2 separate regions of the Homo sapiens genome follow, and region 1 is linked to region 2. Evidence: fine-mapped expression QTL. A gene starts in region 2. The other region holds a variant in brackets. All regions are shown on one strand. Distances are from middle to middle. Region 1 overlaps SGSM2 (small G protein signaling modulator 2). Region 2 holds the start of SMG6 (SMG6 nonsense mediated mRNA decay factor).

Evidence for each region.
Region 1: its variant is fine-mapped to the expression of SMG6 in sun-exposed skin (GTEx, PIP 0.93).

What each region holds. Positions count from the first base shown.
Region 1 is chr17:2,340,336-2,352,308 of GRCh38, forward strand. SGSM2 (small G protein signaling modulator 2) reads left to right here. Exons shown (of 24, transcript NM_014853.3): 2 at 3,210-3,285. Among named protein-coding and RNA genes, the nearest start is that of SGSM2, 8.8 kb to the left of the region's middle. RefSeq lists an enhancer at 7,371-8,308. The variant T/C (reference allele first, on the strand shown) is at 4,353.
Region 2 is chr17:2,300,057-2,312,029 of GRCh38, forward strand. SMG6 (SMG6 nonsense mediated mRNA decay factor) reads right to left here and starts at 3,729. Exons shown (of 19, transcript NM_017575.5): 1 at 3,577-3,729; 2 at 1-608. The coding sequence starts at 3,664. SRR (serine racemase) reads left to right here and starts at 3,894. Exons shown (of 8, transcript NM_021947.3): 1 at 3,894-3,961. It also overlaps the pseudogene HNRNPA1P16. RefSeq lists enhancers at 1,987-2,801, 3,131-3,857 and silencers at 3,359-3,568, 3,759-3,978.

The sequences.
Region 1 (11,973 bases), 40 kb after region 2:
ATCTCCTGACCTCGCCTTGGCCTCCCAAGGTGCTGGGATTACAGGCATGAGCCACTGCGACCGCCAGGAAATATTTTTTAAGAGGATGATGACTTTTTCCACCAGTGCTTAGAAACTGGACTATACTGCTCCAAAAGTGATTCCTAAGAAAATGTGAGAAATGTCAGAATATGCCACAGCTACGTATCATTCCTGACAAAAGTTGACCTGCTCTGAACTCATGTTTCTCCTTTCCTCCTTCAGTGTTTGATTTCTTTTTTTTTTTTTGAGATGGAGTCTCGCTCTGTTGCCCAGGCTGGAGTGCCGTGGCGCCATCTCAGCTCACTGCAAGCTCCGCCTCCCGGGTTCACGCCTTTCTCCTGCCTCAGCCTTCTGAGTAGCTGGGACTACAGGCGCCTGCCACCACGCCCGGCTAATTTTTTGTATTTTTAGTAGAGACGGGGTTTCACCATGTTAGCCAGGATGGTCTCGATCTCCTGACCTCGTGATCCGCCCACCTTGGCCTCCCAAAGTGCTGGGATTATAGTCGTGAGCCACCACGCCTGGCCCAGTGTTTAATTTCTACAGAAACATCCTGTCCCTTCTGCAAGGAAAAACAACAGGAATATTGGTAGACCAGGCTGGCCTTTCACAAAGGACCACTGGTATAATTCTAGGGGTATCTGCAGATCCTTCAACCCAAAAATCCTCCCCATCAGCCTGCTTCAGATGCCTCCAGGTCTTTAGCTGTGACATTATCCTCTGTTGAATGCTAACATCCTTGGGAGGTAATCTAGGAAGTTTTTTTTGTTTGTTTGTTTGTTTTTTTGAGATAGAGTTTCACTCTTGTTGCCCAGGCTGGAGTGCGATCTCAGCTCACTGCAACCTCTGCCTCCGGGTTCAAGTGATTCTTCTGCCTCAGCCTCTTGAGTAGCTGGGATTACTGGCACCCACCACCATGCTTGGCTAATTTTTGTATTTTTAGTAGAAATGGGGTTTCACCATTTTGGTCAGCCTGATCCTCCCAAAGTGCTGGGATTACAGGCGTGAGCCACCATGCCCAGCCGTCTAGGAAGCTTTTAACAGCTTAGAGTGCATTTGCATTAATTGATCTGATCCCCTTTTACCTGAGCACTAACCATTAGCAGTTTCCGGCAGGGAGGGGCCTCCAGGTCCTTCTTCCCGCCTCCCCAGGCTTTTGAGGTTCTACCACCCTCCAAACTATACAGTCTTGACTAAGGGTCTTGGGAACCTGGACAGCATCAGAACATTACATTCCTGTCTAAAGAATGGGGAAGACTAGCTCTACCCAAGGCTCACTTTATGTGTAACATTCTGCACTAGGTAATCTCTATAATCTCCAGTACTAGGACTGCCTGCTAGCAGGTTCTCCCAGGACATCAACAGAGTTTGGGTTAAATGTTGGGAACCACCAGAACCTCATACATGGGAGTGTAAAGTGGTATAACCAACTTTGGAGAACAATTTGGCAATATCTAATAAAGTGTGTGCATCAGACATTCCTTGCCTAGAAACATAAATCCCAAACATTTGTTCACCAGAAGACAGTCCTCAATGTTCACAGCAGCAGTATCCATAACAGCCCCAAACTGGAAACCACCCAAACGCCGGGTGTTTGTACGTTCACACCACGGAGAGTGAACAACCTACAACTGTACACAACGCGCACGGAGAATGAACAATCTACAGCTATACACAACATGAACAAATTTCAGAATGACACAGGTGAGCAAAAGAAACTAGTCACAAAACACTACACGCTGAGTGATTCCACTTATAAAAAGTATAAAAACCCAGGCCGGGTGTGGTGGCGGCTCACACCTGTAATCCCAGCACTTTGGGAGGCCAACGCGGGTGGATCACCGAGGTCAGGAGTTCAAGACCAGCCTGGCCAACATGGAGAAACCCCGTCTCTACTAAAAATACAAAAAAAAAAAAAAAAGCCAGGTGTGGTGGTGCATGCCTGTAATCCCGGCTACTGTGGAGGCTGAGGCAGGAGAATCTCTTGAACCCGGGAGTTGGAGGTTGCAGTGAGCTGAGAACGCGCCACTTCACTCCAGCCTGGGCAAAAGAGCGAAACTCCATTTCAGAAACAAACAAACAAAAAAAGTATAAAAACCCACAAAACTGTCGTGTTGGAATCAGGAGAGTGGGTACCCTTAGGGGGAATAGTGACTAGAAGGGAAGGTGATGAGGCGAGGGTGTTGGTCACATGTTCTGTTTCTTGCTCTAGTTGCTGATTTCACAGGAGTGTTCAGTTTGTGAAAATTCACCACGCTGTGTAATTGTGATATGTTCTTTTATATGTTTACTGCACATCAGTTAAAAAGATTTCTTTTTAAGTGCTTTCTTAAAGAAATGACTGAGCACAGTGGCTCACGCCTGTAATCCCAGCACTTTGGGAGGCCGGGCGGGTGGATCACCTGAGGTCAGGCGTTCAAGACCAGCCTGACCAATATGGTGAAACCCCATCGTTACTAAAAATACAAAAATTAGCAGGGCGTGGTGGCATGCACCTGTTGTCCCAGCTACTCGGGAGGCTGAGGCAGGAGAATCGCTTGAACCCGGGAGGCAGAGGCTGCAGTGAGCCGAGATCACGCCACTGTACTCCAGCCTGGGCAACAGAGCGAGACTCCATCTCAAAAAAAAATGACTGTTTACCTTACAAGGTATTTGGGAACTTTTACATCCAGGTGGGAACCCCAAACATCAGAGTTCTAGACCCTAGATGGAAAGAAGGCTGGGCTTTTGAGCATGTAGAGGGTGTCCCTGAGGTATGAGACCTACCCCTAACCTTGGAGAATAGGGAGAAAAGGAGGAGGGGCAGGTTGTTTATCTGCAGGCTGTACCGAGATGGTTTGTCTCTAAAGGACAGTATATCTGCCCAGAAGCCCTTCGTGAGCTGAGAACAGATGAGCAAACAGCATCCTATTCCTGTTCTCCAAGGCAGGGCACTTCCACCTGGGCTGGAACATGCACTGATTGTTTGATGGGTTTTTGGCATCTCTTTCCCTGGTTTCCCCTCCAAAAGACTGGAATCAGACTGTGCTGAAGAAACTTTGCTTCCCCACACCTTTCATCCCTGTCATCTCTGCAAGTGTCTGAAAGTGCCCTTCAGACCAGAAGGGCGGAACCAAACTATTTATTTGCCCAGAGGTCTTTGATAAGGGAAAATAATAAAAGCAGTGATGCTGTCCATGTGTCCGCAGGTGAAGCAAATCATGGAGGAGGCTGTCACCAGGAAGTTTGTGCATGAAGACAGCAGCCACATCATTGCTTTATGTGGTGAGTGAGTGACTGAAGGATGATGGGAGGTCGGTCTAGAGCCGAGGACACTGGCCTGGGGCCAGGAAAAGATGAGTCCTCAGGTGCAGTAGCTCTCAAATCTGGCTGCAAGTCCAAATCAACCTGGAAGCTTTTGAAATCCTCTTTGGCCCCATTTGCAGACCTACTAAATCAGGTTCTTCAGGGGTCAAGAATCTGCGTATTTTTTGTTCCCCAGGATAGTAATTCTCACATTTTAGCATGTATCAGAGTCACCTGAAGGGCTTGGTAGAACACAGATTTCTGGGTCCCAACCCTGGAGTTTCTGATTCTAGTAGGTCTGGGGACCCCACTTTGAGAGCCGCTGCCCTAGGTCATTTGAGTTCAGGAACCAGTGCTCTGACTGATTTTGATTTTGACTTCAGGGAGGGGTTTGTGCTTTTCGGATGCTCTGTGCCACTTTCCCTTTGTTTCCCACCCGTGTTGCTCCATGATCCTAACCCCAAGCCCTTGACTGGATGCAAAGGAGCCTGAGCGTGGGCTAGGAGAGGTGGCTAAGGCTTCCAGCCTCAGAAGGGACTCTCTCATCACCTCCTTCTCAGTGTGGCCAAGCCTTCCAGCCCCAGAAAGGAGAGAGTCGCTTATAAACCATTTCCGCCTCCTCAGCCTGAAGACTTTTGCTTTGTAGGAGCAAGCCTATCCCTACGCACAGACTCTTCTTGGATTTCTAGGAATTTCAGCTTCCTCTCAACCCCCCATCTGAAGGGACAGGGAACCATTCACCTTCTCTGTGTTGTATTCCTTGGCCTCTGAGATTGGTGTTGGGGTTTGTGGAGGGAAAATAATGAAAGAACAGATAAGGGAAGGGATGCTTTGGACGGTAGTGTGGCACAGCAGATACAGCTGCCCTTCCCCTCATCCAGCAGCAGATCCCCACCAAGGGCTCACCAGGTGCCAGACACCGTTCACCGTGCAAGGAAATGGCAGTGACAAGATGGACAGAGTCTCTGCCGCAGGAGCTTACATTCTGTTGGGGAGACAGACAGGAAACAAATGCGCAAGTAAATATGTCATCCAATAACTTGGCA[T/C]GTGATAAGAGCTAGGAAGAAAAAACATGTGGGAGGGCAGTCGGAGAGGCAGCCTCTGAGCAGAGTCTGAGTGACAGACTGGGGTTTGAATCCTGGCGTCCTGCCTTTTAAGTCGTCTTGGACAAGTTTCTTAACTTCTCTCACCCTCAGTTTGCTCCTCTAAAAACAGACTGATGATTCCCACCTCAAGGAACTTTCGTGGGGATTGAGATGATGTGTGTAAATGTTCATTCGTTCGTAGCATTGTAAGCACTCAAAGAATATTCGTCTCTCCTCCTTTGGCTGTTGAGGCTGAAGGTAGGTTTGTAGGACTTGAGTTCATACCATGTCCGTTTGGGAAGGTTTCCCCAGTTCTTTGAGATGGTGGAATAATGATTCCTAGGTTTACAAGACACAGCCTGACCTCAGTTTTTCTCAGCAGAACCTATGCTCTGGAAAAAAAAAAGGCATGCCAGTATTATGATAAGCAACTTTGAAGAGTATTAGAATTCTCGGCCGGGCACAGTGGCTCACGCCTGTAATCCCAGCACTTTGGGAGGTGAGGCAGGTGGATCACCTGAGGTCAGGAGTTCGAGACCAGCCTGGCCAACTTGGTGAAACCCCGTCTCTACTAAAAATACAAAAATTAGCAGGGCGTGGTGGCGGGCGCCTGTAATCCCAGCACTTTGGGAGGTGGAGGTGGGCGGATCACGAGGTCAGGAGATCGAGACCATCCTGGCTAACACGGTGAAACCCCGTCTCTACTAAAAATACAAAAAATTAGCCAGGCGTGGTGGCGGGCGCCTGTAGTCCCAGCTACTCAGGAGGCTGAGGCAGGAGAATGGCGTGAACCCGGGAGGCGGAGCTTGCAGTGAGCCAAGATCGCGCCACTGCACTCCAGCCTGGGTGACAGAGCGAGACTCTGTCTCAAAAAAAAAAAAAAAAAAAAATTCCTACTTTTTAAATACTGACAGCTAATTCCCATTTAAAAAAAAATTGTGTGGGCCACACAAAAGACATCTGCCAGCCTCTGCCAGTGTGCAGCCTCTGTTTTGGGTTCGGTACAGTCACGGAGAACAGGAGCAGGAGAGGTTCCAACAGTATCGGGCTAAGTCAGGCCAGGGTATCTCAGGGCCTACAGACAGAGAAATCCTTATGCTTTGTCAAAATTGGTGCTCAGTGGTGAGCTAAATCCCAATTTGGGCTGAAACTGAGGCTCGTTGAAAGCATTGATTATCAACCTTTTTCCTCTGCCTGCAAAGCAGCTTCCTTGCATTGCATGGTGGAATCACGAGAGACTCTTGCGGGGGACGGGGAGGGAAGACTAGCAAGGTATGGATCAAAAACACCACCCCTCTCTGCCTTTTTGGAGATTCTGATGTGCCAGTCTCCCTCAGTCCCTGGAAAAATGCTCTGAAATGCATTTTTAGTCTGAAGTTGATCCAGACTTAAACTGTGCCTTGCTACTGTCCTAGCCACGTCCGAATTCAGCTTTGTTGTGGGAGAAATGGGAGTATAGAGAACGTGCTGAGAGGTCAAGAGCAGAGTGAAGTCTGTGGAGACTGGATTACCAGCCTAGCGACACCACGGTCCCTAGTTTCAAGGGACCCTTGTGTACTGGGCCCCTCAACTCCACACCGACCCATGGTTCTTGGCAGAGGAGGGTTGGGGGTGACTGAGGAGAGCCAGGCCTAGGCAATACAAGCTTCTCTGAGCTTCTTAGAATGCAGACATTTAAACAGAAAACACAGAGCCTTCCTGGAGAGCCTTCCTGAAGAATCACTGTGTCAAGACCTGACCATGGGCAAACCCAGGAAAGTTTGCAGCCAGATCCCCATTCCTGTTACCCAACGGGAGGGGCAAGACTCCTAGGACTGGCTAGAAAATTGCTTTGTTGAGTGTTTGCTGTGGTTGTTCCTAAACCTGTCTGTCCAGAAGCTGGACATGCAGTAGGCCCCTGCGAGTAGAAACTTTCCTTGTGTGGAAGTTTTCGCTGGCAAACCAGTCTGGCGGCAGCAGGGGGGTGGGTGGGGTTCTCTGTGTGCTGTTCCCAGGCCCGAGGATCAGAACCTATGTAACTGCCACCTCCGTGCCAGTGGAGGGTGGCGCTAGGAGAATGGACTCAAAACTACCACTATGGGGCCAGGCATGGTGACTCACACCTGCAATCCCAGTGCTCTGGGAGGCTGAGGCGGGAGGATCCCTTGAGACCAGAAGCTTGAGACCAGCCTGGGCAATATTACAGGATGCAGTCTCTACAAAAAAATAAATAACTCGCTGGGCATGGTGGTGCACGCCTGTAGTCCCAGCTACTCCAGAGGCTGAGGTAGGAGGATCACTTGAGCCCGGGAGGTTGAGGCTGCAGTGAGCTATGATTGCACCACTGCCCTCCAGCTTGGGCAACAGAGAGAGAGAGAGACCCTGTCTCGTTTGTTTGTTTATTTATTTATTTATTTAGAGACGGAGTCTCACTCTGCTGCCCAGGCTGGAGTTCTGTGGTGCTATCTCAGCTCACTGCAACCTCCGCCTCTCAGGTTCAAGCAATTCTCCTGCCTCAGCCTCCTGAGTAGCTGGGATTACAGGTGCCTGCCACCACACCTAGCTAATTTTTGTATTTTTAGTAGAGACAGGGGTTTCACCATGTTGGCCAGGCTGGTCTCGAACTCCTGACCTCAGGTGATCTGCCCACCTTGGCCTCCCAAAGTGCTGGGATTACAGGTGTGAACCATCACACCCGGCCTCATTTTTTTTTTTTTTTTTTAAACAAAATCCAAAAACTACCACTGTTGGGGAGAGGTCTTTGATATATCCTTTTATCCTTTTTATCTTAAAACATCACATCAAGTTTACATTTTTCTCTATCATATGGTTTTTGGATTTTTTTTCATTTTAATATAAAGACTTACTGTTGAATTAAAGTATAGGCTGGTATCTCCTGTCGCCCCCTCCCCTGGAGGGGAAGGTGCTTTTGTTTTTTCTTTTTTTTTTTTTCCAGATGAGGTCTTGCTATGTTGCCAAGATTGGTCTCAAACTCGTGGGCTCCAGGTATGCTCCTGCCTTGGCATCCCAAGTAACTGGGATTACAGGTGCATACCACCGCCCGAGGTCCATAGTGTTTTATTTACCCTATTCCGATTGGGCACTGAGTTTGCATTTTAACCTTTGGCTGGTAGAGCAGGTTTCAGAGGCTCACAGAGAGGCTTCTGGCCAGGCAGAGCAGGTTCTCAGGCCAATCATATCTCCCAGGACCTCAGCCTCCCCACCCCCCAGGGATTGGGGCAGACACCAGCCTGCCTCCTCAGTCACCAGATTCCCTGCCCTGCTGTGTGCAAGTGGGTCAACATGAGGGTTGCTTCAGACTGAGGATGAGCTGTAATTCGAGAAGGGTGGAATCTGTGGAGCCGGGAATAACATCAGGCTTTATTAACCAGCTCCCTGTTGCTAGGCAGCTTTCATTAGCCAGGAAGGTCTGCCCTGCAGTGAGCTCCTTCAGGGAATGGCAAGGAGATGCTAATAAGCTGGGAGAGAAGCCGGTGCTAGGGAAGGCTTGCCTCTCCCCTGGGATATTGCAGCCAGCGATATTTCAGCACATTCTGAGATTTGGACTCCAGGCAGTCTTCAGCCTGTCTCTTTTCAGTAAAAGGGATTCCTGGAGGCTGAGGTGGGAGGATCCCTTGCAGGAGTTCGAGACCAGCCTGAGCAAAAAAGACCCCATCGCCACAAAAAGGAGGAGCGGGTTCCTCCTCCTTCCCACCCACAGGGAATGAATAGCTCATTCTCTTGCTATCTAACTCGTGCCTTCCATCTAGAAATGATCTAAGAGGAAGGAGGGAGCTCTGAAGGAGCTGACTCCCCTCACTCTATCTTGGGGCATTGCGGAGGGCATATGGGGATGTTCATAGCTGGGACTTTGGGGTCACACAGACCTGGGTTCACATCCTGGCTGTGCCACGAAGTGTGTAGCCGTGCTTACTCATCTCTGAGCCTACCCCAGAAGGCAGATGTAAGGAACAGAAGAGCAATGCAGGCAACACACACAGCATGGATCTGAGTATGCAGAAGGTGCTCAATCGCATTCTACTTTGGTTTTTATTTTGTTTTGTTTCGTTTTGTTTGAGATGGAGTCTCACTCTGTCTCCCCGCTGGAGTGCAGTGGTGTGATCATAGCTCACTCAGCCTCGACCTTCTGGGTTCAGGCGATCCTCTCACTTCAGCCTCCTGAGTAGCTGGGTCTACAGGTCTACGCGCCACCACACTCGGCTACTTTTTTGTATTTTTGTAGAGACGGGGTTTCGCCATGTTGCCCAGGCTGGTCTCAAACTCCTGACCTCAAGTGATCTACCCGCCTCGGCCTCCCAAAGTGCTGGGATTACAGGCATGAGCCACCACCCCACCCCACATCTGCTTTGTTTTTGAAAGGGAGCATAGGCCGGGCACAGTGGCTCACGCCTGCAATCCCAGCACTTTGGGAGGCTCAGCTGGGTGGATCACCTGAGGTCAGGAGTTCGAGACCAGCCTGGCCAAAATGGCGAAGCCCCATCTGTACTAAAAATACAAAAATTAGCTGGGCATCATGGTGCACGCCTGTAATCCCAGCTCTTTGGGAGGCTGAGGCAGGAGAATCACTTGAACCTGAGAGATGGAGGTTTCAGTGAGCGAGATTGTGCTGCTGCACTCCAGCCTGGGCGACAGAGCGAGACTTGGTCTAAAAAAAAAAAGTGACCTTACAACCTTTCCTATAAAGCCTCCTCGAGCCTTCCCCAGGATTCCATCTGGGAATCTGTGTTTCTGGAAGTTTGGAGCATCTGGAGAATCAGAAATTTGAACATCAGGAACTCAATAAGGAAATTTGATAATATAAAGGAATTGTTACCAATTTTGTCAGTGTAATAGAGGTATAAGTGCATGTTTTTAAGAGTCCTCTTTCAGAGATAAATATATATGATGTCTAAAATTTGCTTCAGAATAATCCAGTGGTAGGAAACAATGGTTGCAGGCGGAGGAGCTGAAGCAAGATGGTCGTGACTTGATCATTGTTGAAGCTGGGTAATGAGTACATGGGCAGCTGTTATACTGTCCCCTTTTCCTTCTGTATATGGTTGGAATTTTCCCTAGTGAAATGTTTTGTTTTTTTTTTTTGAGATGGAGTCTCCCTCTGTCGCCCAGGCTGGAGTGCAATGGAGCGGTCTTGGCTCACTGCAAGCTCCGCCTCCCGGGTTCACACCATTCTCCTGCCTCAGCCTCCCAAGTAGCTGGGACTACAGGCGCCCACCACCACGCTCGGCTAATTTTTTGTATTTTTAGTAGACATGGGGTTTCACCGTGTTAGCCAGGATGGTCTCAATCTCCTGACCTCGTGATCCGCCCACCTCGGCCTCCCAAAGTGCTGGGATTACAGGCGTAAGCCACCACGCCTGGCCTAATTTTTGTATTTTAGTAGAGATGGGATTTCACCATGATGCCCAGACTGGTCTCAAACTCCTGACCTCAGGTGATCCACCTGCCTCGGTCTCCCAAAGTGCTGGGATTACAGGTGTGAGCCACTGCATTTGGCCTAGAATGTTTATATTCACATGGGAAGTATCTAATAGGGAAAAATTGCAGGCATAAAAAAGAGAAGAGAAGTTTGCTGGAGGAGCGTCTTTGAAAAGGTGCAAGGGAGGTGGGGTGCGGTGGCTCACACCTGTAATCGCAGCACTTTGAGAGGCCAAGGCAGGTGGATCACCTGAGGTCAGGAGTTCTAGACCAGCCTGGCCAATATAGTGAAACCCTGTCTCTACAAAAAATACAAAAATGTGCCGGGTGTGGTGGCGCACGTCTATAATTCCAACTGCTGGGGAGGCTGAGGCAGGAGAATCGCTTGAACCCAGGTGGTGGAGGTTGCAGTGAGCCGAGACCGTACCACTGCACCACTGTACTCCAGCCTGGGCGACAGAGTGAGACTCTGTCTCAAAAAAAACAAAAAAACAAGACATAAGAAATGGTGCAGGGGCAGCACTCCAGCCTCCAGCGTGCCGGTGGAAGGTGACCTCAGAGACAAGTCCAACTAGACCATCCCTAGGAACGAGAGGAAGGCAGGGACTGGGCATGAGGTGCAGGGAGGGAAGGCACCTGCATTCATCAGTCCCCTTCGGTGTGGTAGGCAGGGGCCGAGAAGCCTTTCACACCTTGGGATATGCTGTTACTTTTCATCACCCAGCATCCATTGAGGTAGACCCTGATTTTCTCCCTAATTACATCAGAAGCTCAGAGAGGTTTAGTGACTTGACCAAAGTCAAACAGCCAGTAAGGAGAGGAGCCCGTGGGCTGGGCGTGGTGGCTCACGCCTGTAATCCCAGCACTTTGGGAGGCTGAGGAGGGTGGATCACTTGAGGTCAGGAGTTCGAGACCAGCCTGGCCATCATGGTAAAACCCCTTCTCTACTAAAAATACAAAAATTAGCCGGCCATGATGGTGGGTGCCTGTAATCCCAGCTACTTGGGAGGCTGAGGCAGGAGAATTGCTTGAACCTGGCAGGCGGAGATTGCAGTAAGCCAAGATCACGTCACTGCACTCCGACCTGGGCAATAGATCGAGACTCAGTCTCAAAAAAAAAAAAAGGAGAGGAGCTAGTGTTTGAACCCACCTCTGTCTTGCTCCAGACTCTGTGCTGCCCAGGGATTGGTCTGCCTGTGAGGCCTACCCAGGAGTAGAGACTAGAGGGGCGGCGGCATTGAGGAGTTGGCCCTCATGCAGACGAAGCTCTGGTCATTGAACTGTGGGCTTATGGTGTCCAGAGACACTCTAGGAGACTGTGGCTTCCTTACCCAGCCAGCTGAGTGTGCCCACATCAGTGTCCACTGCATGAGAGGCTGGCCCTGGCCTGGTTCCCTGGGTAGCCGCCATGAGCACTGTGCATGCGGACCCTGTCTTGCATCTCCAGCAGGACAAGGACAATGGGATGTGTAGCATGGATTTCATTTCCCCCTCCTTGGTTCTAGGTTCTGGGTTCAGGCGATCTCTCACTTCAGCCTCCTGAGTAGCTGGGTCTGCAGGTCTACGCACCACCACGCTCGGCTACTTTTTTGTATTTTTGTAGAGACGGGGTTTCGCCATGTTGCCCAGGCTGGTCTCAAACTCCTGACCTCAAGTGACCTACCCGCCTCAGGACAGTTCTTTATCCTCCCAATCAGAGTCCAGTTGCGAATGTTGCTTTCTTGTTTTGGGGGTTGAGCAGGGCTGAATGCCTTCCAAAGTTGAAGCAAACAACCAGTATCACCAGTGCAGGCTGAGAGAAAATGCACCCTAGTTACCGCAGAAACGCTCATCTGAGTAAAGGCAGCCACTACAAATCCCTGGGTGGAAATAGCCAGGGAGAGAAGCGGGGAAGAGAGGGGCAGGTCACACTTGGCGATGGCCCTTCGCTCCTCTCACCTTGTCTGTGGCAGATGAAACACTGGCTCCTTCCACCGGCAGTTGGAGTAAAGATACTTGATGCTTCTTCTCCTTCAGTTGTTACTTGAAAGAGGCGGGTCCTCCCACCCATTCCTTTATCTCCAGGAAGGCTGCTCCTCTCCGGCATTGTTGGTTCCACCATCCAGGGACCTGAACCACTGGCCCCCAGGCAGGCATTGGGCTTTTGAATTCTGCTCTAATTAGCGTC
Region 2 (11,973 bases):
GTCGTCGTGGGTTTCCCTCACCCCCTCCCCTTTTCCCATCCTCTTTCCTTTTTCTCCTTTTGCAGCCCCTACTCTCCCACCACCTGGGCTCTTTTCTATCTCAGCCCTGTCTGGTTTATTCGCAACTTCCTCCTTCGCAACATTTCCCCTACACTCATCTTCCTCTACTCTCAGTTGTTCTACCTGGTTGAGGACTTCTTCCTCCTCCACCCGACTGGCGGATTCTTTGCTAACAGTCTGCAAACGTCGTCCAGGCTGATAGATCTGCAGGTCGGGTTTCTTTGTTCTTTTGATAATTTTTAGACTACGATCCTCTTGTCCAGCAGTCCTAGGAAAGGATTCTTGTCCCCGATTATTTTCTGGGTCTATAGGACCATTCTGCTCTTGGTTGTTCAGTTCCTTGCAGACATCTTTAACGGGCTGTGTACCATTTTCAACAGCAGAGCAATCTCGGTCATTAACAATTTCATCTTTGAATTCCTCACTCCCAGGGGGTTCCTTGATTTTGGGCTTGTTCCTTAGCCGAGAAAGGCCAGGCTTATAGATTTCCAGATCTGGACGCCTGTTATCTTTGCGCGGCCTGGCCTCCTTTAATTCCTTCATGTTTTCTGTTATGTCGGGGAAAGAGTTTGGGAGGGAAAGGTAGAAGATAAGAATAAAGAAGGAAGATAGGGGAAAGACTGTCATTCTGGTTAAGTAACAAAAAAAGTCGAGCAAGAATTACATATCCAAATGCTAATACTGGTAGGCAAAGAAGGACATTTCTGTAGAAGCAGAAATTCTGGGTTTACAACACTTGTTCAACAATTCACAAGGCTAAGGACCTAACTGTGTTGGGGCTACCTACACTTGGGTAAGTGAAATGGGGGAAACCCATCTCCTTATGTGTCATCCAAGTCATATTCAGAAATCCAAGATCCCAAACTACCTCATTATTGTCAGAACAAAAGACCTCTCTAACCTTTTCAGCACTACACTGTTCTCTATCTATAGAGCCTGTGAATCCACCTCAGCCTTTTCTTCCGCCTCTAACTTTTTCCTGGGTGGCTAAGTTCTTTTAACATAACAGCAGGAGGAAGAAGTAAAAAAGGAGAAAAAGGAGGGAGGGTATTATAACAATTATCAGTCCTGGACATCTCTGGAGAAAAAAAATGCAACTTTAGTCTTTAAACTTGACCAGGATGATTCTCTTCTTCAAGATACCAATTACCAAATAACATACCTGCTGGTGAATTAAACAGCAAGCAGTTCTTTTCCCATTCTTCAACTTCACCCATCCTCACCAACTCACTAACAGTAGCTCACAGAGTTACCAAAATACTGCTCAGACTATCATACTAGAATACTGACACTAACTGCTACTGTGATGATGGAATTATTAGAAAAAAGTTCCATAAGGGAACTTTCCCTGGATGCTGATGGAAAGATTGTGACATACTCTCAAAATGCCAACAACTGGGAACTCAAGAATTAAGAATAATACAGGACTTTAGAAACCACTCTCGGCCGGGCGCGGTGGGTCACGCCTGTAATCCCAGCACTTTGGGAGGCCGTGGTGGGTGGATCACGAGGTCAGGAGATCGAGACCATCCTGGCTAACACGGTGAAACCCCGTCTCAACAAAAAATACAAAAAATTAGCCGGGCGTGGTGGTGGGCGCCTGTAGTCCCAGCTACTCGGGAAGCTGAGGCAGGAGAATAGCGTGAACCCAGGAGGCGGAGCTTGCAGTACGCGGAGATCGCGCCAGTGCACTCCAGCCCAGCGGACAGATACTTACTTAAGTATCTGGTTTTTTAAAAAAGTATCTGTTACCGTTATCAAAAGTAACCACTAAACATTACAATGGAAAAGTGACAGAATTCGGGAGAATATTATCAAGTACACAAATGGAATGCTATATAAAATCCTAGCATAGGCCAGGTGCAGTAGCTCACGCCTATAATCCCAGCACTTTGGGAGGCTGAGGCGGGAGGACTGCTTGAGGCCAGGAGTTCGAGATCAGCCTGGGCAACATGGCAACACCCTGTCTCTATAACGTATACAAAAAATAGCCAGGTGTGGTGGTGCAGGTCTGTAATTCCAGCTACTCGGAAGGCTGAGGTGGGAGGATCACTTGAGCACAGGAGGGGGAGGCTACAGTGAGCTGAGATCCCTCCACTGCACTCCAGCCTGGAAGACAGAGTGAGACCCTGCCTCAAAAAAATTGGCCGGGCACGGTGGCTCACGCCTGTAATCCCAGCACTTTGGGAGGCCAAGGCGGGCGGATCACGAGGACAGGAGTCCAGACCATCCTGGCCAACACGGAGAAACCCCGTCACTACAAAAATACAAAAAATTAGCCAGGCGTGGTGGCACACGCCTACAGTCCAAGCTACTGGGGAGGCTGAGGTAGGAGAATGGCGTGAACCCGGGAGGCGGAGGTTGCAGTGAGCAGAGATCGCGCCACTGCACTCCAGCCTGGGCGACAGAGCTAGACTCCGTCTCAAAAAATAATAATAACAACAATAAAAAAGTTTTTAATCCTAGTATTGCTCTCTAAATATAAATGGAAACAAGCCCAAAACAGGAATCATATGCTCCAGCAAGTACATTTACTGTTTGTAGGTGTAAGGAAAAGGGGAAGAAAAGAGACTGAGGTTTTGGATAGTGCTTCACTATTTTCATAAGTTTAAAAGGTAGGTTCATGAAGTATCCACAAAGATAAAGCAGTTTAACCCAAGAATAGCTCACCCTCGGCAGTCTGTAACTTGGTGGGGGGCGGGGGGATGGGGAAAGCTATTCCTACTACTTTCTAGAGCAGCGGGAGAAAATAGCCTTAATAATCCAATTATGTTAATCAACAAAAACCAATTTCACAGACTGGCCGCAAACCTAGAGAAGGCACCTATCACAGCTACCATTCTACACAACTCTATTGCCTAACGCAGGAGAGGTGAGACACTTAGAATCTTTCTTACTTTCCTGACGTGGCTGGAGACTTGAAATTAACTTGCAAATTGAGCATTCTCTCTAATAAAAACTGCTCCCACACATGCCAGGGCCAAACCCGAGTAGTCTGAGGTCCCGGATCCCTCCAGTGGCGCAGCTTTCGGAAGCCTGTCTTGGGGGGGAAAAGTTCAGCAACGAAGTCGCAGGCTCTTAAACCTTTCTCCCCAATTCCTTCTCTCCGACGTTAAAGCGGTGGCCGGGGCAGGCCCGCGGAGGGCGGCCTGGAGAGCGATACGCCCGGGGCCTCCACCAGACCCCACTCCTTTCCGCGTCTCCCGATGCCTGGGAATCCGGGGCGGGTCTGAGAGGGCTGGGGCAAAAGGAACAGTCACCTTCGCGGCGAGAAAGAGGGTGGAGGCAGGAATTCGGGCCAGGCTCTCCCGGAGCTGGCCAGGACTGGCCGAGCCCGACCCCGCACTAACCCGCGAGAGAGGTAGGGCAGCGAGGGTCCGCCGCGGCCCCAGCGCCTACTGCTGGGGGAAGGGGCGGGGGCTCCGGAGCCGAGGGCCGAGCGGGGAGGAGGCAGAGGAGGAGGAGAGGGAGGCGGGGCGGGCAGGCCCGGCCCAGGAGCTGGGCGGCGCGACTCACCTCTGCTCCCGGCCTGCGGGGCCAGAGTAGCCAGGATCCCGCGCAGCTCCGACGCGGAGATCCGCACACGCTCCAGCCCTTCCGCCATCTTCGCGGCTGCTGCTACAGCCGTAGCGGCTCCGCCACCGCCGCGCGCAGCCAGGAAACCACCACAGACGGGCGGCGCGCGCGCTCGCCCACCTCCCGGCCTTTCCCCGCCCCCTGCCGCCCTCCCTTTCCGAACGACGGTGGCCGCGCTGGGAGGAAAAGCGCCCGCCGCCGGTTCCAGAGGGGCGGGACCGGAGCGAGAGCCTGGGTGGGGCGGGCGGGCGCTGCGCGTGCGCAGAGGTGCGGCCGGGGAGGCGCGCGGAGGCTGGAGCTGGAGGCGCGGCGCCGGTGAGCTGAGGTGAGGCGAGGCCGGGCCGTGCCAGGCCAGGCGGGCGTTTGCGGCGGTGGCTGCCGTTGCTGTTGTCGTGGACACCAAGGACACTGCTAGTCTGGGACTCGGGTTGACAGAGACACCCCTCAGCCTGGGCTCCTCTGGACACCTTAGGCCAGGCTCTCCCGCCACAGGCCCGGCCTAGCGCCGCGGGCCATTACTTGGGACCTTGAAGATCTGCTAAGAGTAGTTGTTACTATTCCCTTTTTTTTTTAGTTGGAGTCTCGCTCTGTTGGAGACTCCCGGGCTGGAGTGCAGTGGCGCGGTCTCGGCTCACTGCAACCTCTGCCTCCTGGATTCAAGCGATTCTCCTGCCTCAGCCTCCCTAGTAGCTGGGATTACAGGTGCACGCCACCAAGCCCGGCTAATTTTTGTATTTTTTGTAGAGACGGGGTTTCACTAGGCTGGTCTCGAACTCCTGACCTCAGGTGATCCACCCGCGTCGGCCTCCCAAAGTGCTGGGATTACAGGCGTGAGCCACCGCGCCCGGCCGCCCCCTGACTTTTAAAAACTAGATACGATATAGTTGGAATCGTGTGGAAGGAAGTACATCAGGAGGCATATAAGTCCATTTGGGACCTGTAATCCCGGCGACTCGGAACGCTGAGACGGGCGGATCGCTTGAACCCGGGAGGCGGAGACTGCAGTGAGCCGAGATCGCGCCACTGCACTCCAGCCCGGGAGTCTCCAACAGAGCGAGACTCCGCCTCAAAAAAAAAAAAAAGTCAATTTGGGAATTTCTGTGTCACTATGGATTCTTGAAAAAAATTACTGCTGTGGATCTCAGGTTGACTTTTTAATTTCCCATCTTTAAAATTGAACTATACCAGAAGGCTGGTACTTGAATCTTTTTTTGGAGAACTGTACAGAGGTGAAGCTCCCTTCCCCAAGGCCTCCTGCCTCCACCTGTTGCCCCTCCACAGCCCCATAGGCTTTTACCCCACACCCATCACAGAATAGTTACCAATTATTCCTTAGTCTGAGCCGAAGGGATTGCCACAACCTCTGACAGAACTCCTTCAGTTCCTTTTACGTGACACTTTGTCACCGGAAGGTTAAGCATAAGAAGAAAGTCAGTAGATGATGGGTGAAAAGATCCAACAGTTCAGAAGAGGAACCATTTGAGTGGTCAGAGCAGAAGACAGCCTTTGCCACCAGATTTGAGAGAAATAGGAAGAAGCGTTAAAAAATAATCTGTTTCATATTGAAATTTGAGAGGCCATTGCATGATTTCTTTTTTCAGCTGGAAAAATAATGGAAAACAAGAAAACTTTCTTAGGACAAATGGCACCACCCATTTAATGCAACAGTGTCAGTGAACTGCAGATTAGATATGCCAAAAGTTAAACCAGTTCAAGAAAATTTACCAGAACTCAGAAGGAAAAGGTAATAGATAAAAACTGAGAGACAAAGATAGGAGACATGGAGAAGGGGTACAAAAAATTAATAATTAAATACGAGTTCCAGAAGGGGATAATACAGCTGACTGCAGAAGAGCAATAATCAAATAGTAGAAGAAAATTTACTACGTTGGTGGAAATTTTTGAATTATCAGATTTAAAGAATTCATGAAATACCAGGTAAAAAGAAATGACAAGAAAGACAACCATATTTAAGTCAGTATCACAATGAAAGCTGCTGAGATTTTTTGTTTTTCGTTTTTTTTGAGACGGAGTTTCACTCTTGTTGCCCAGGCTGGAGTGCAGTGGCACAATCTTGGCTCACTGCAACCTGCCTCCTGGTTTCAAGCAATTCTCTTGCCTCAGCCTCCTGAGTAGCTGGTATTACAGGCGCCCACCACCATGCCCAGCTAATTTTTTGTATTTTTAGTAGAGATGGGGTTTCACCATGTTGACCAGTCTGGTCTCGAACTCCTGACCTCAGGTGATCCACCCGCCTCAACCTCCTAAAGTGCTGGGATTACAGGCGTGAGCCACCGCGCCCAGCCTTGAATTCAGTTTCTAAAAGTAAAAATTGTACAAGTTGGCCGGGCGCGGTGGCTCACGCCTGTAATCCCAGCACTTTGGGAGGCCGAGGTGGGCAGATTGCCTGAGCTCAGGAGTTCCCAACCAGCTTGGGCAAGATGAAACCCCATCTCTACTAAAATACAAAAAAATTAGCTGGGTGTGGTGGCGGGCACCTGTAGTCCCAGCTACTTGGGACGCTCAGGCAGGAGAACTGCTTGAACCTGGGAGGCAGAGGTTGCAGCGAGCCGAGATTGCTCCACTGCACTCCAGCCTGGGCGACAGAGTGAGACTCCGTCAAAAAAAAAAATTGTACAGGTCATATTTACTTAGCACAAAGTAATAAAACTAGAAGTGAATAGCCACAAATGAAGCAAAACATTCTAACCATTTGGAATTTTTTTAAAAACAACAATTTTAGGCCAGGCCCCGTGGCTCATGCCTGTAATCCCAGCACTTTGGGAGGCCAAGGTGGGCAGATCACTTGAGGTCAGGAGTTCGAGACCAGCCTGGCCAACATGGCGAAACCCCGTCTCTACTAAAAATACAAAAACTAGCCGGGCGTGGTGGTGGGTGCCTGTAATCCCAGCTACTTGGGAGACTGAGGCAGGAGAATCACTTGAACCAAGGAGGTAGAGGCTGCAGTGAGCCGAGATCACGCCACTGCACTCCAGCCTGGGTGACAGATAGAGACTCTGTCTCAAAAATAAAACAAAACAAACACTTTCCACCCATGGACACCGCCAAGTCTAAGTCAGAGTCTCCTAAAGAGCTCGTACAGCTGAAGAAGCTCTTCATTGGAGGGCTGAGCTTTGAAACAACCAATGAGAGCCTGAGGAGCCATTCTGAGCAATGGGGAACACTCGCGGACTGTGTGGTAATGAGAGATCCAAACACCAAGCACTCCAGGGGCTTTGGATTTGCCACATATGCCACTGAGGAGGAGGTGGATGCAGCCACGAATGCAAGGCCACACAAGGTGGATGGAAGAGTTGTGGAACCAAAGAGAGCTGTCTCAAGAGAAGATTCTCAAAGACCAGATGCCCACTTAACTATGGAAAAGATATTTGTTGGTGGCATTAACGAAGACACTGAAGAATATCACCTAAGTGATTATTTTGAACAGTATGGAAAAACTGAAGTGATTGAAATCATGACTGACCAAGGCAGTGGCAAGAAAAGGGGCTTTGCCTTTGTAACCTTTGATGATCATGACTCCGTGGATAAGACTGTCATTCAGAAATACCATACTGTGAATGGCCACAACTGTGAAATTAGGAAAGGCCTGTCAAAGCAAGAGATGGTGAGTGCTTCATCCAGCCAAAGAGGTCAAAGTACTTCTGGAAACTTTGGTGGTGGTCGTGGAGGTGGTTTCGGTAGGAATGACAACTTTGGTTGTGAAGGAAATTTCAGTGGTCATGGTGGCTTTGGTGGCAGCTGTGGTGGTGGTGGATATCGTGCAGTGGGGATGGCTATAATGGATTTGGTAATGATGGAAGCAATTTTGGAGGTGGAAGCTACAATGATTTTGGCAATTACAACAATTAGTCTTCAATTTTTGGACCCATGAAGGGAGGAAACTTTGGAGGCAGAAGCTCTGGCCCCTATGGTGGTGCAGGCCAATACTTTACCAAACCACGAAACCAAGGTGGCTATGGCGGTTCCAGTAGCAGCAGTAGCTATGGCAGTGGCGGAAGATTTTAATTAGGCAACAAAGCTTAGCATGAGAGGAGAGCCAGCGAAGTGACAGGGAAGCTACAGGTTACAACAGATTTGTGAACTAAGCCAAGCACAGTGGTGGCAGGGCCTAGCTGCTACAAAGAAGATATGTTTTAGACAAATACTCATGTGTATGGGCAAAAAACTCGAAGACTGTATTTGTGACTAGTTGTATAACAGGTTGTTTTAGTTTCTGTTCTGTGGAAAGTGTAAAGCATTCCAACAAAGGGTTTTAATGTATTTTTTTTTTTTGCACCCAAGCTGTTGATTGCTAAATGTAATAGTCTGATCGTGACACTGAATAAATGTCTTTTTAAAAAAAAAAAACAACAAAAAAACCACCAATTTTAAATAATTCATGGGTCAAAAAAGAAAACAAGACTAAAATCTTGGATTATTTAGAAATTATAATAATGAAAATATTGCATAATGGAATCCATGATATTAAAGCACTTCTCAGAGGAAAAATCCTATAAGTAACCTTATATGCTTTCTTTTTAAAGTGAAAATTAGTAAGCTAAGCATTCAACAAATATAGAAGACAATTAAAGGAAAATGGCAGAGTAAACAATCAGAAATAAGGGAAAAAGAGCTGTACTTTAAATAGATTGAAAAGCTCATTCTTCAGAAATAAAGCAGATACTAATATACACACATTTCTGGCAAAAAATAATTTTTAAAAAAGGGACATCCTCTTGGATGTTTCATAAACAATTCAAACTTAGCTAATCAAATCTGATTTTCCTGTCAAATACTTATTTCTTCTCCTGTTTTAAATCTCAACAAATTGTACCACCATTTAAGTCAAAACCCAGGAGTTACTCTTTTTAAAGAAAAATTTTTGGCTGGGCACGGTGGCTCACACCTGTAATCCCAGTACTTTGGGAGGCCGAGGTGGGTGGATCACAAGGTCAAGAGATCAAGACTATCCTGGCCAATTAGCTGGGCATGGTGGCACGCTCCTGTAATCTCAGCTACTTGGGAGGCTGAGGTAGGAGAATCACTTGAACCCAAGAGGCAGAGGTTGCAGTGAGCCAAGATCGCACCACTGCACTCCAGCCTGGTGACAGAGTGAGACTCCATCTCAAAAAAATAAAAATATTGGCCGGGTGTGGTGGCTCATACCTGTAATCCCAGCACTTTGGGAGGCTGAGGCAGGTGGATCATCTGAGGTCAGGAGTTCGAGACCAGCCTGACCAACATGGTGAAACCCTGTCCCTACTAAATACAAAACATTAGCCAGGTGTGGTGCTACATGCCTGTAATCCCAGCTACTTGGGAGGCTGAGGCAGGAGAATCGCTTGAATCCGGGAGGCGGAGGTTGCAGTGAGCTGAGATTGCCCCATTGCACTCCAGCCTGGGCAACAAGAGCGAAACTCCATCTCAAAATAATAATAATAATAATAATTTGTAGAGGCAGGGTTTCCCTGTGTTGCCCAGGCTGGTCTCAAACTCCTTGCCTCTGGCAATCTTCCCACCTTGGCCTTCCAAAGTGTTGGGATTACAGGTGTGAGCCACCAGGCCTGGCCCAGGATTTATTCTTCACACTTCTCTCCCCCATTCAATCCACTATCAGGATATGTCTCTTCTGTTCCTATAATGAACATGTATGGAATCATCTCCCCAGCATTCTCCCCTTTATTTTCACTTGGAAAATGCCCCTTACTCCCACTCAAAAGTACTTTTTTCTTTTCTTTGTTTTCTTTCCTGTGTCACTCCTTTATTTTGCTATTTTCCCCTCAGGTGCAGAGAATTGAGCCAGTCATACTCGTTTATTCACACTGTCATTAACAAGCCCTTTCTCATTTTATCTTTTCTCTTCATTCCAGTTCCCACTAATGTTCCTTTCCTCCCTCCTTAGGTATTCACTCTAATGTGTTTGATATATGTCTTTGAATATACATGTATCTTTGAATAATATGTAATGTTTTATGTATGTATGTGTTTTAAATGTACCTAATTGATACTGTGTTACAGATCTCATTCTGTTTCTTTTTCATGTTTATGTAAATACTTCTGACTATTGCACACTGTTATCTTCAGTGACCTCATACCCTGGCCACTGGTCCTGGGCCAAGATGGGCCAGAGTCCTTACCCAGAATTTTTTTAACTGAAACTGAGAAAGAAAATTCCCCTTCAGTGTGGAAGCCATAAAATGTAAAACATACGAGCTGTCAGCAGCCACGTGTCAGTTGGTTCCATATGGAACCAACTCGCCTGTGTGAAAAAGAAGCCGACGTGCAGAAAGCAGCAGAGGTGAGAGACTAAGAGTCTGGGAAGCTGTCAAATCTCTGGTTCCAGTAGTTCCTGAAGCTCCATATTCCTCCCCTTACCATGGTTTGTTCATTTCTTCATGGATTCCATGAGCTAGTAAATCTCAACACCTCCACCTTGTGCCTACTAAGGTAGTACAAATTGAGGTTCTATCACTTGCAACTAAGAGGACTAACTGTTTACAACCTCCAAAATATATCTTATTTTTGATAGTGGGTTTTTTGTATTCTGGGTTTTGTTGTTGAGAGACAGGGTCTACATGTAGGAATGGAATCGGTAGATCATAGGATGATTCTATGTTCAATTTTTTGAGGAAGCACCATACTGTTTACTGTAGAATTACCACTACAGGCGCCTGCCACCTGCACGGCTAATTTTTGTATTTTTGGTAGAGATAGGGTTTCAACGTGTTGCCCAGGCTGGTCTTAAATTCCTGAGCTCAAGCAGTCCGCCCACCTAAAGTGCTGGGATTACAGGTATGAGCCACTGCATCCTGCCAAGGGGGCATAATTGACATTTATTCATAAAAATATTGAGACTTCAGGCCTGGCATGGTTTTTTGGGATTTTTGGTTGTTGTTTTTTTTTTGAGACAGAGTCTCACTCTGTCGCCCAGGCTGGAGTGCAGTGGAACATTCTCGGCTTACTGCAACCTTTGCCTTCCAGGTTCAAGCGATTTTTCTGCCTCAGCCTCCCTAGTAGCTGGGACTACAGGCAAATGCCACTACTCCTGGCTAATTTTTTTGTTTGTTTGTTTGAGACAGAGTCTTGCTCTGTCACCCAGGCTGGAGTGCAGTGGCATGATCTTGGCTCACTGCAAACTCCGCCTCCCGGGTTCATGCCATTCTCCTGCCTCAGCCTCCCGAGTAGCTGGGACTACAGGTGCCCGCCACCATGCCCGGCTAATTTTTTGTATTTTTAGTAGAGACAGGGTTTCACCATGTTAGCCAGGATGGTCTCGATCTCCTGACCTTGTGATCTTCCCACCTCAGCCTCCCAAAGTGCTGGGATTACAGGCGTGACCCACCACGCCCGGCCAATTTTTGTTTTTTTAATGGAGACGGGATTTTACTATGTTAGTCAGTCTGGTCTCAAACTCCTGAACTCCTGATCTCAAGTGATCCACTTGCTTTGGCCTCCAAAAGTGCTGGGATTACAGGCAAGAGCCACCACGCCCAGCCAACTATTTTTTGTTCTCTTGTTTTTTTGTTTTTAAGAGACAGGGTCTTGCTCTTGCAGTGGTACAATAACTCACTGCAGCCTTGAACTCCTGGGTTTAAGCAATCCTCCTGCCACTGTGCCCAGCCGAGGGGGCATAATTGACATTAAAAAATATTGAGTTTTCGGGCCCGTCATGGTGGCTCACGCCTGTAATCCCAGCACTTTGGGAGGCCAAGGTGGGTGGATCACTTGAGCTCAGAAGGTCAAGACCAGCCTGGGCAACATGGCAAAACCTTGTCTCTACAAAAAATACAGACGTTTTTTGTATTTGTGGTGGCACAGTGCACCTGTGGTCCCAGCTACTCAGGAGGCTGAGGTGAGAGGATTGCCTGAGCCTGGGAGGCAGAGGTTGCAGTGAGCTGAGATCATGCCAATGCACTCCAGCCTGGACGACAAGAGACCCCGTCTCAGTAAATAAATAATGCCTCCAATTCATTTATACATCTTTACAATGGAATTTCTGGCAACTTTGATAAAGTAATTCTAGTTCACCTGAAAGAATTGATATGTGAGAAAAGCCAATGAATTTTAGAGCAATCAAGGGAGAATTTATTAATACAGTATATAATAGGAAAAGACATTGGCAGTCTGGCCAATGGAACAAAATACAATAGCCCCAACCATTCATAGAAATTTAATTTTTGATAAATAGAGCATTTCAGAGGAAAAGGATTCTGTCAGTAAATGGTGTGTTAAGAAGGCTGGGTGTGGTGCCTCATGCCTGTAATCCCAGCACTTTGGAAGGCCAAGGCGGAAGGATCACTTGAGCTCAGGGGTTTGAGACCAGCCTGGGCAACACAG